Linked DNA regions of Homo sapiens. The protein of the gene in region 1 purifies or fractionates together with the protein of each later gene. This does not show direct contact. Each region holds a gene or a part of one and is shown in the gene's direction. Other genes may lie near its edges. The genes, in order: OR6M1, HERC3 and RHBDD1.

Region 1 (3,061 bases):
TTTATGTGGAAGAATATTTATTTGATCATTATTTATACAAGCAAGAAATGTAAACCATCTAAATTTTCAGCATTAAGCAACTGGCTAAATATATCACAGTCCCACTGATAGAATCAAACACTATACAATTCTCAAAAATGATTGTGAAGACTTCTAGGAGTTGACATGGAAAGATGCTAAATTGTTTTAAGAAAAAGGAAGAAAGAAAGAAAAGAGAAAGAAAGGAAAAGGAAAAAAGCTAATTACAAAATAGTCTCCTAGTATGATTTATTTTAGATACACAAGTATGTACTTTGAACTTTAAAATAGCCTAAAACTATATACACCAAAAGGTCACTGTATCTCTAAGAAGTTCGATTACAGATTATAATTTTCTTTTCTGCACTTGCATTTTTTAATTCTTTGCACTAAAAATGTCTTTCTTGTATAATAAAAAGAAAAATAAAATAAGAGGGTAAATTTTTTATCTTGGAGGAAAGTGCAGGGGGAGTTTGGAAAAAGAAAAAGAGGTGGCCACGATCAGTAGCAAAGAGTGGAGGAGATGCTAACTTATCTATTAAGGATTTATTAAGGAGGTGCTAAGTGATATCTAGATAAATAAAGCACCAAGGTCAGAGTTAAAGCATGGGCTGGTTTTTACCTAAAATGGGGAGGTCTCTGCAAAATAATCATTTCTCACATTGTGGGACAAAGAACAAACTAGATGATCTTGAAGTACAGTTTCACAATGTCGGCTGACAAAGTAAATGAAGTGAGGTGAATTACCTCTATGTTGCCTTCCTGTATATAATTTGTGCCTCTCTGATGTTATCACACTATATACGGTGCTCTCAAATGATCAGCCAGATATATGATACATATTAGATACTGCACAGAACTTGTAGAAGGTAGGTTTTAGACACAAAAGCATAATCTAAGGGCGAGACACTCATTATTTCTTTTTGAGGTGTCATCTAAAATGATTAATAGGAACCGTCAGCTGTTGTTCCTTTTAATAATCTCTGGACAGTTTTCACAGATCTATACATGCTAGGGAAAGATGTTAAGAATTCGGAGACTCTGGATATCTACAAATGTAGAAAAAACTAAATCAACCTTTATTAAATGACAACCACCAAAGTGAAAGAAAGTTTGTTATAGAAAAGACTTTACGTTTCTAAAGGATTTGCCACTCAGGAACTGTAAACCAGAATAATAGAAGGGCATTCTGATTAAGTATACATCAGTACATTAGCACATTTTTAGCTGAGAAAATGAAGCCAAAAGAATAGAAAAGATTAGAAATTTCATCAATGAAAAGGAATAGAATTTTATAACTAGAAGGAAGTTGAGTTTTTTTTATCCAGCCTTATTCCGTCATTTTACAGGAAAAACAAACAAACAAACAAAAAAAAACCATGTACCTAAATAGTATCTTGACTTTCCCAGTGTGGCACAATAATTAACTTGCAGATAGAGGACTACATACCAGGTCTACATCTCCCAATATAAGCCACTCTCCGCAATACATTCTCAGCAGATATTTACAAAATTACCTAAGCTGATTTTCCTTTTCTTGTTTCTTCAGGGAAACCCTGCCCACCATATAGTAGTTGTCATGGGAAACTGGAGCACTGTGACTGAAATCACCCTAATTGCCTTCCCAGCTCTCCTGGAGATTCGAATATCTCTCTTCGTGGTTCTTGTGGTAACTTACACATTAACAGCAACAGGAAACATCACCATCATCTCCCTGATATGGATTGATCATCGCCTGCAAACTCCAATGTACTTCTTCCTCAGTAATTTGTCCTTTCTGGATATCTTATACACCACTGTCATTACCCCAAAGTTGTTGGCCTGCCTCCTAGGAGAAGAGAAAACCATATCTTTTGCTGGTTGCATGATCCAAACATATTTCTACTTCTTTCTGGGGACGGTGGAGTTTATCCTCTTGGCGGTGATGTCCTTTGACCGCTACATGGCTATCTGCGACCCACTGCACTACACGGTCATCATGAACAGCAGGGCCTGCCTTCTGCTGGTTCTGGGATGCTGGGTGGGAGCCTTCCTGTCTGTGTTGTTTCCAACCATTGTAGTGACAAGGCTACCTTACTGTAGGAAAGAAATTAATCATTTCTTCTGTGACATTGCCCCTCTTCTTCAGGTGGCCTGTATAAATACTCACCTCATTGAGAAGATAAACTTTCTCCTCTCTGCCCTTGTCATCCTGAGCTCCCTGGCATTCACTACTGGGTCCTACGTGTACATAATTTCTACCATCCTGCGTATCCCCTCCACCCAGGGCCGTCAGAAAGCTTTTTCTACCTGTGCTTCTCACATCACTGTTGTCTCCATTGCCCACGGGAGCAACATCTTTGTGTATGTGAGACCCAATCAGAACTCCTCACTGGATTATGACAAGGTGGCCGCTGTCCTCATCACAGTGGTGACCCCTCTCCTGAACCCTTTTATCTACAGCTTGAGGAATGAGAAGGTACAGGAAGTGTTGAGAGAGACAGTGAACAGAATCATGACCTTGATACAAAGGAAAACTTGACACTGGTATACACTACATTAAATACATTTCTTTTTTTATTATTTTTTTTAAGTTCCAGGGTACATGTGCAGGATGTGCAGGTTTGTTACATAGTTAAACGTGTGCCATGGTGGTTTGCTGCACCTATCAATCCATCACCCATGTACTAAGCCCAGCATGCATTAGTTCTTTTTCCTAATGCTCTCCCCAACCCCCAGCCCTCCCCCAATGGCACACATTTCTTATCTTCAACACATTCTTTCTGCACGACTATGGTGGTGTTTGGTGTGCCAGAAACTGAGATGGTGCCCCAGGATGAGCAATGATCATGCCAAACTGAAGGAAAACTCTGATCATGTCTGGGAGAAAATTCAATCCATGAAGTATCTTGCATATACCACGAAGGGAGGCTGGGTGCAGTGGCTCACACCTGTAATCCCAACATTTTGGAAGGCCAAGATTGGAGGATTCATTGAGCCCTGGAAGTTGAGGCTGCAATGAGCTGTGATTGCACCACTACACTCCATCCTGGGTGGCAGAGTG
Region 2 (3,659 bases), on another chromosome or scaffold:
GCTGGTGTAAGTATTGGAGTGCAAAGACCACAGAACCTGGAGTTCTGATGTACAAGGGCAGGAGAAGAAGGATGTCCTAGTTCCAGAAGAGAGAAATAATTTGTCTTTGCTCTGCCTTTTTGTTCTGGGCTTTCAGCTGACTGGGCGGTGCCTACCCACACTGAATGAGGATGGATTTTCTTTACTTAGTCACTAATTCAAATGCCAATCTCTTACAGAAAACTGACCCAGACATACCCAGAAATAATACTTTACCAGCTATCTGGGTATTCCTTAATCTAGTCATGTTGACTCCTAAATTCAACCATCACCACCCCCTCCCCACAAATGAGTCCCTAACTGGGTTGCAGGAGGTCACTTCAGAAACTCTCTTTGGTTACATTTAGAGATTATAAAGTCATTTACTTTTATAATTAAGGCAGCTGGGATGAGCTCACACAATTCATTTCATATTTAGTAATTAGTTTTTTCCTCTAGGGAAAGATATTCTGGATTATGCTGATGTTGGCCTTCCAGAACAGGGGTTCTCAACCAGGGTGATTTTGCTCCCCAAAGGACATTTGGCAATTTCTGGTAACATTTTTGGTTGGTACAATGGGGAGGGACTTGCTATTGGCATCCAGTGGGTAGAACCCAGCGATGCTGCTAAACATCCTTCATTCCCACCTGCCCAGCAAAGAATCCTCTGGTCCCAAAAGTCAATAGTACCAAGGTTGAGAAACCCCGTTCTAGATGGATAGCTTTCATGACATTTGGGAAGGGCTCTTGGCCAGACTTGTTAGGTTGTTCATCCTTAGTATCACAGATTTCGTATAGAGTTGTGGGGAAAGCCTTTTATTTTTTTTCAAACTGACATCTGTGTATTTCAGAAAGTCTACTCCTGTAGCGTACATAGGATGCATCTCAGGAAACCAATCAAAATGAAGACCAGATTTACAAAGCAATAAATACGTATAGATAAAACATTTTGTTTTTGTTTTCTCAACAGCATAGCAAAAAGCATATGGAAAATTACATATGGGAAACCAGAATTCATTTCTATATTTTGGGCAGATTTATTTTAAAAACAATAACAACAACAACGAAAGACCCAAAAAACAAAGTACAAGCAATTTATCTTCATTTGAGCATAGGGTTCCGATACATATAATTATGATTTTTAAAAAATGTTAGAAACTCTTATGTTTTCAAAAATTATAACATTGCTGTCAGAGTGTATTAAAATCATCTGAATGTGTCCATTACTCAAAAACAGAAGCCTGCTTTGCAAATAGATAGCTCTTTTGTAAATTAACAAATGTGGTATGTTCAAGAGCAGGATATATGAGATATTCTCTAAGTCTCAAAAATGCTAAGATTTTATTTAAGGTTAAAAAAATGATTTAGTTGCTAGAAAGTTAAAAATAGTGGCAATGAAATTAGTCCTTGGGTGAATGTAATTGTATCCTTTGTGTTAACGATGAGAGACATTAACTTTGCATTTACTATAGATCATTTTTATTTTAAATACTTTGGTAAGAAAGGCTTTCAACAAGGAAGTTCTACTGTCATTTGTTGATGAGTGGACCAGTTTGCACAGGGGACGTTATTTGTACCAAGCCACAGCATCTACATCTAGTTCAATGAGCCACAAAAACAGAAAAAAACCAAAAAACACAAGATGAAATCAGGGAAATAATTATTTGTTTATAAACTTCAAGATAGCCTTAACTTGATATGACAGTCCTTGTACTTTGACTTGAAGGAAAACAGATTTAAAAATTTGAAAATTCTTGTAAAAGGAATTCCAGTGTGGTTTATTCTTTGTGAAAGAATAATATTCTGTATTTTGGGTTTATTATTTTGAGATTTATGCAAAGTGTAGTATTTTTGTGGATCTTATCTGCCAGATCAAATTTAAATCTGATTACTAAGAACACAGTATTTTACTTGTTTATAATTCCTATCAGAGTGTTTGCTTTTTCTTTTATTATATACCTTTTTGATTTTGTTTGTTTAGAATTGATGAACATTTTAAAACGAGTCCCAAAATCCCTGGGATTGACCTGAACTCAACTAGGGTGTTATTTGAGAAGTTAATGAACTCTCAGCACTCCATGATTCTAGAACAGGTATGTTTCTATATTTGTAAAGTGCATTCTTAAAAATGCATTTTTGTATCGATGAATTCAACTTCAAGAGAAAAAGAGTAAGATGAAAAAGTGAAAGTCTCCAAATCTTAATTTTGTAAAGTATTTACTCTGGGAATTAGACCTACCTTTTGCTTTCTTTTGGCTTAAACCTTTCCAAGGCAATGCCCCTCTAGAATATACAGTTTGCACTGGCAGGGATCTTTGGCTTTTCTTTTCATGGATGTGTACTGAGGGCCTAGACCAGTGTCAGGCTCATAGTAGGTTCTCAGTGCATAGTGAATGAATGAGAGTTGAGAGTCTATCAAATAGCTTATGAACTTAGAGAAAGTTAACTAGATCTCAAGTATGTTTGAATTTCTCATTACTCTTTTCCCTCATACAGATTTTGAACAGTTTTGAAAGTTGTCTGATTCCCCAGTTGTCAAGCTCACCACCAGATGTTGAAGCCATGAGAATCTATTTAATACTACCTGAGTTTCCCCTACTCCAGGATTCCAAGTATTATATAACATTGACTATTCCCTTGGCTATGGCCATTCTTCGGCTGGATACAAACCCCAGCAAAGTACTAGGTGAATTTGCTAACCTCGATATCAGTGGTTTTATGGTCATTTGTTTTGTTGGTGTGACTCCTGGCTCTCAGTGGATTGAGATCCAAGAATCTATTTGTTGCCATTTAATATCCTTAACACTTAAAACCTTTTTTTCTTTGCTGTTAATTTTTAGCTAACCCTATTTTCAAGTTGAAAATAAAACCATTATTTAGATTATTTGAAATGACTCATGCCAGAATAATCTTGATTTTATAGTATTCACAAACCTAATTTATTTAACTTGAAACTATTTTTTTCTACCACATTTGCTCAGTACCTCAGTATTACTGTACGTTGGTCTTTCTCCTATGTCTAATTTAGGGGGTGGGAGTGAAGTGAACAGTTTCGGTGATACAGAGGTCTCCAAAACAGGAGAGGAAGAAAATGACCTAGTGTGGACTTACCAAATGTTTGTTTTGTTTTTCTTTTTTAGGACCGTTGAGTCCACACTGATTTTTGCAGGCTCCGGACACTTTGCTGAGATAAAAACCTTCCATTCCTCAGTGATTTGGAGAGTGTCTTTCATGGGAGTAGCACCTGAAATGTTTTTATTACTCAAGTGCAGGAAGTCTATCACCTGGCTTTTTACTTTTTTCCCCCCTGGTAAATTTTGTTAGGTGTCATTGCAGCTCAGTAACTTCTGTGTTCCAGATGGACTGGGATGTTACTTGAGTGTGGTCTCGCCGTGAATAAAGAGATTGTGTTCCTGAAGGTGGAATACTGGCTTTTCTATATTGCCTCCACCTTTGTAGAAGAGATAAAAACAGAAATAATAATGAAAGCACTAGTAAATGTTAGTACTTAATTTTTTTTAAGATCAAAAGCCTTTTGGGGGCACATTTTCTCAGGTGTTCTAGTTGATGTGAAACAGAGAGGTGGCAATATCAGAAGAAATCTTACCTGACTTTCAAGTTTTAGAGTTTTTTCATTTTTA
Region 3 (3,659 bases), on another chromosome or scaffold:
CAAGCTGTGATGGTGACCCAGACTAGAGTAGTAGCCCTAGAGCTAGAAAGAAGTAGATTGATAAAAAAAAACTGTTTGGAAGAATTAATAAAACTTGATGGATAGGATTTGGGGGTAGCAGGGTGATAAGGTTAAGGTCAAAAGACATGTCAAGGATCTTTCTATGTCTTTGGCTTGAACAACTGGATAGATGGAAATCCCATGTCTTGAGGTGGGGTGCATGAGAGGAGGAGCTGATTTGGAAGGGACAGTCCAGTGTTCAGCTTGGGGCATGTTGAGTCTGGTGGGGAGGGTGTGTTTGTAAGGTAAGGGAGCACAGGGACTGGCCTTTCTTGAACTCTGGTAACTGGCTTGTGGTCTGGATACAAGTTAGAATAATACATAAACCATTTCCAAAACCCAACAGATTTTACAGGTTTTCAGTTCACAGATAAGTTGCTATAATTGATGTTGCCTCTGTGGTCTTTCAGATAGCACAGCACTCTAAAAATTTCTATGTATTTGATGGGCATGACATTAACAATATTCATTTTATAGTCAGTGCTCACTTATTGTGATCTGTCTTCCTTGGTGTTCCTAGAGCCGTGCCTCCCTGGCCCACAGCGTCAGGTTACAGATTTGATCTTTACATGGATCAGTTGGATTTTCTAAGTTGTCTTGTGACAGGTTGCATCCCTCACCTTGGATGGCTGACTTGGTAACTGATTAGGAAGGAAACTGCCCTAGAGTTGTTATGAACTAGGACTGATTGGTCTTTGCTACTACTTAAGACTCAAAACGTATGTTCTACCTACACTGGGACTCTAATGGCCTTTGTTTACAAAGGTGGAGCCCAAAAGACGGGCACTTCTCACATTGGCTATGGTTATATCTCCTTTCGCATTAAGTATACATTTACTGAGAAGCCAAGCCACACAATTTTACTTCTCTTTTGATTTCCTGTGGACAATATTTTTATTTCCTTCAACAAATAGAAGTAGGCCATTTAGAGGCTGGGAATATAAGTGTTTTGTTATTTGCTGTACCTCCAGTGCCTGGCACAGGGACTGGCATGCATATGGCACTTGATACATGTTTATTAAATACATGAGTGAAAGAAGGAATGGCTGAATCATCATTCTGTGAGAAAGGATAATTCAGTTTTCAGAAACCAAGACATCAGGCAAACTATATCTTCTTCTAAGATTACGTCCCTGAAACCTGAGAAATCAAAGCTGAAAAATAGAAATTTGGGCATCATCCTGATAAAAAGAATTACAAAAATCATTAAAGTGGAAGCCCTTGAGTGTGTGCAGGAGAGAGTAGGGATAGAGGAGAAGTGAACAGCAGAGAAACGGGTTGGAAGGAGGAGTGAAGCCTCAGGAGAGCAAGGTGTCCCACAGAAGCAGGAGCAGTCAACAGTGGAGAGCTGGGAGGTGCGAAGGGATGCAGACAGAAAGACACCTTTTCATCCAGCCAGAAGTAACTCAGGAAAGTGCAATCAGAGCCTGGGACACAGTGTGAAGTAAGACTGGGAATTCTGTCCTTTTATCTATATTCTTCATTACTAATGATTGTAATTGAGGGGCAAGTTTTTCTTGAGCAAAGATGTAGTTAGTTTTGATTTTCTGCTACATAAAGCCCAGCATCATAAGACACTGTTGGCAATGATATTGAAGGGTTTATTTTGTGATTTCTTGTAAGCTGATTATTTACTGATCAATGATCAAGGCCAGTTTTTCCATTGTTCCTGTTAAAGGTAATAATGTTTGATATATGTAACATAAATATTTCTGTGTGTGTGTGTGGGCACACGTGTGCACACATATTGATAAATTTAGGAGAATTACAAAAAAGTTACGGTAGGTAAAGAGTTGAAAGTTGACTTGAGTTCTAATGTGAAAAATATAGGCCATTTATCCAAAGTTATGTGGGAGCATTTCAGTTTAAATTTCATTAAATTCTCTAGTTCATAAGAATGCTACAGAGCTACAATAATAACAATATAGAAACGGGTTGTGCTAATACATGGGGTTTTGCCAATAATGTGTGTGTGCATGCACGTGTATGTATATGGCTAATTTTGTGTGTGTATGCATACACATATATATATACACATGCATAATTTTTTTCTGAACATTGTTTTGGTGTGATGTTGATAATAAGAATCCATATGGGGGCATAGGAGTACATTTGAGTCTTTTTAGGATGTTACCATTTGCAAAGGAATTAATTCTCACATAAGTAAGTTTACTTTATAGAAATGAAAGTAGTAGCTACTGTTTATTCTGCATCTCTTTTGTTCCAAGCATGTCACAGTAATCCTGGGAAGGAGGTTTTATGTTTCTTAAAGGGAGGAAATTGAAGTTCAGAAAGTTTAAATGATTTGCCCCAGGTCACAGAGCTAGAAGATAGGAGAATCCTGCCTTTTTTTTTTTTTTTTTTAACTCTAAAACTCATGCATTGTCCAGTGTGCAGTCCAAGTTAGAATCCTTAGGGTATTAGAGTGAGTTACCTGTTTGGTTGGGGGCCAATTAATCTCCACAGAGAAAGCAGAAACCATTAGATGAGAACTTTTTCAACATTTTGCCCCTAATAGCTACACCTGATTTTTCTTTTCTTTCTGTTAAGAGGAAAAGACTCTTCCCTCCAAGCACTTGATCCTTTTTATTTATCTCTTGCATCTTTAGTCTGTGTCTCTGCCTGCATCTCTTCCCTTACTAGCTTCTTCTCATGAGCATGAAACAGTCCCTCCCTGGCTTAGTCCGTTTAGGGTTGCTATAAATACCTGAGTCTGAGTAATTTATAAAGAAAAGAGGTCTATTTAGCTCACAGTTCTACTGGCTGTAAAGTTCAAGATTGAGCATCTGGTGGGGGCCTCAGGCCATTTCCATTTGCGGTGAAAGGTGAAGGGGAGCTAGCATGTGCAGAGATCATGTGATGAGAGAGGAAGCAAGGGAGTGGGGAGGTGCCAGTCTCTTTTAACAACCAGCACTGGCAGGAACTAATAAGAGTGAGAACTCACTCATCCCCTGACCCCAGGGAGGGCATTCATCTTTTCATGAGGGATATTCCCCCATGACCCAAACACCTCCCATTAGGCTCTACTTCCAATACTGGGGATCGGATTTCAACATGAGGCCGGGCCTAGTGGCTCATGCCTGTAATCCCAGCACTTTGGGAGGCTGAGGCAGACGGATCACCTGAGGTCAGGAGTTTGAGACCAGCCTGACCAACACGGTGACACCTAGTCTCTACTAAAAATAGCCAGGCATGGTGACACATGCCTGTAATCCCAGCTACTCAGGAGGCTGAGGCATAAGAATCATTTGCACCCAGGAGGTGGAGGTGGCAGTGAGCCAAGATCATGCCATTGCACTCCAGCCTGGGCTACAGAGTGAGATTCTGGCTCTAAATAAATAAATACATTCATTCATTCATTCAACATGAGGTTTTGGAGGGACAAACACCTAAACCACAGCACTCGCGAAAGGCAATACCTTCTGTATTAGTTAGTAGTTGTTGCATAACAAACCACTCCAAAGCTCAGTGAAGTAAACCAAGTACCATTTATTTAGCTCACTGTTTTGTGGGTCAGCAAATTAGGCTGGGCTCAGCGAGACTCACTTGTATACCTGTGGTCAGCTAGACAGCTTCACCTCTGGAGTAGTAGCTGACCA

The links.
Region 2: the proteins of OR6M1 (region 1) and HERC3 purify together in Homo sapiens (affinity purification with mass spectrometry; one large-scale study listed by BioGRID and IntAct). This does not show direct contact.
Region 3: the proteins of OR6M1 (region 1) and RHBDD1 purify together in Homo sapiens (affinity purification with mass spectrometry; one large-scale study listed by BioGRID and IntAct). This does not show direct contact.

The regions. Positions count from the first base shown.
Region 1 is NC_000011.10:123,804,886-123,807,946, reverse strand, and holds OR6M1 (olfactory receptor 6M1), read left to right. Parts: upstream 1-1,597; coding exon 1,598-2,539; downstream 2,540-3,061.
Region 2 is NC_000004.12:88,665,378-88,669,036, forward strand, and holds part of HERC3 (probable E3 ubiquitin-protein ligase HERC3), read left to right. Parts: intron 1-1,999; coding exon 2,000-2,111; intron 2,112-2,514; coding exon 2,515-2,704; intron 2,705-3,659. UniProt on the Homo sapiens protein: E3 ubiquitin-protein ligase which accepts ubiquitin from an E2 ubiquitin-conjugating enzyme in the form of a thioester and then directly transfers the ubiquitin to targeted substrates.
Region 3 is NC_000002.12:226,859,948-226,863,606, forward strand, and holds part of RHBDD1 (rhomboid-related protein 4), read left to right. Parts: intron 1-3,659. UniProt on the Homo sapiens protein: Intramembrane-cleaving serine protease that cleaves single transmembrane or multi-pass membrane proteins in the hydrophobic plane of the membrane, luminal loops and juxtamembrane regions.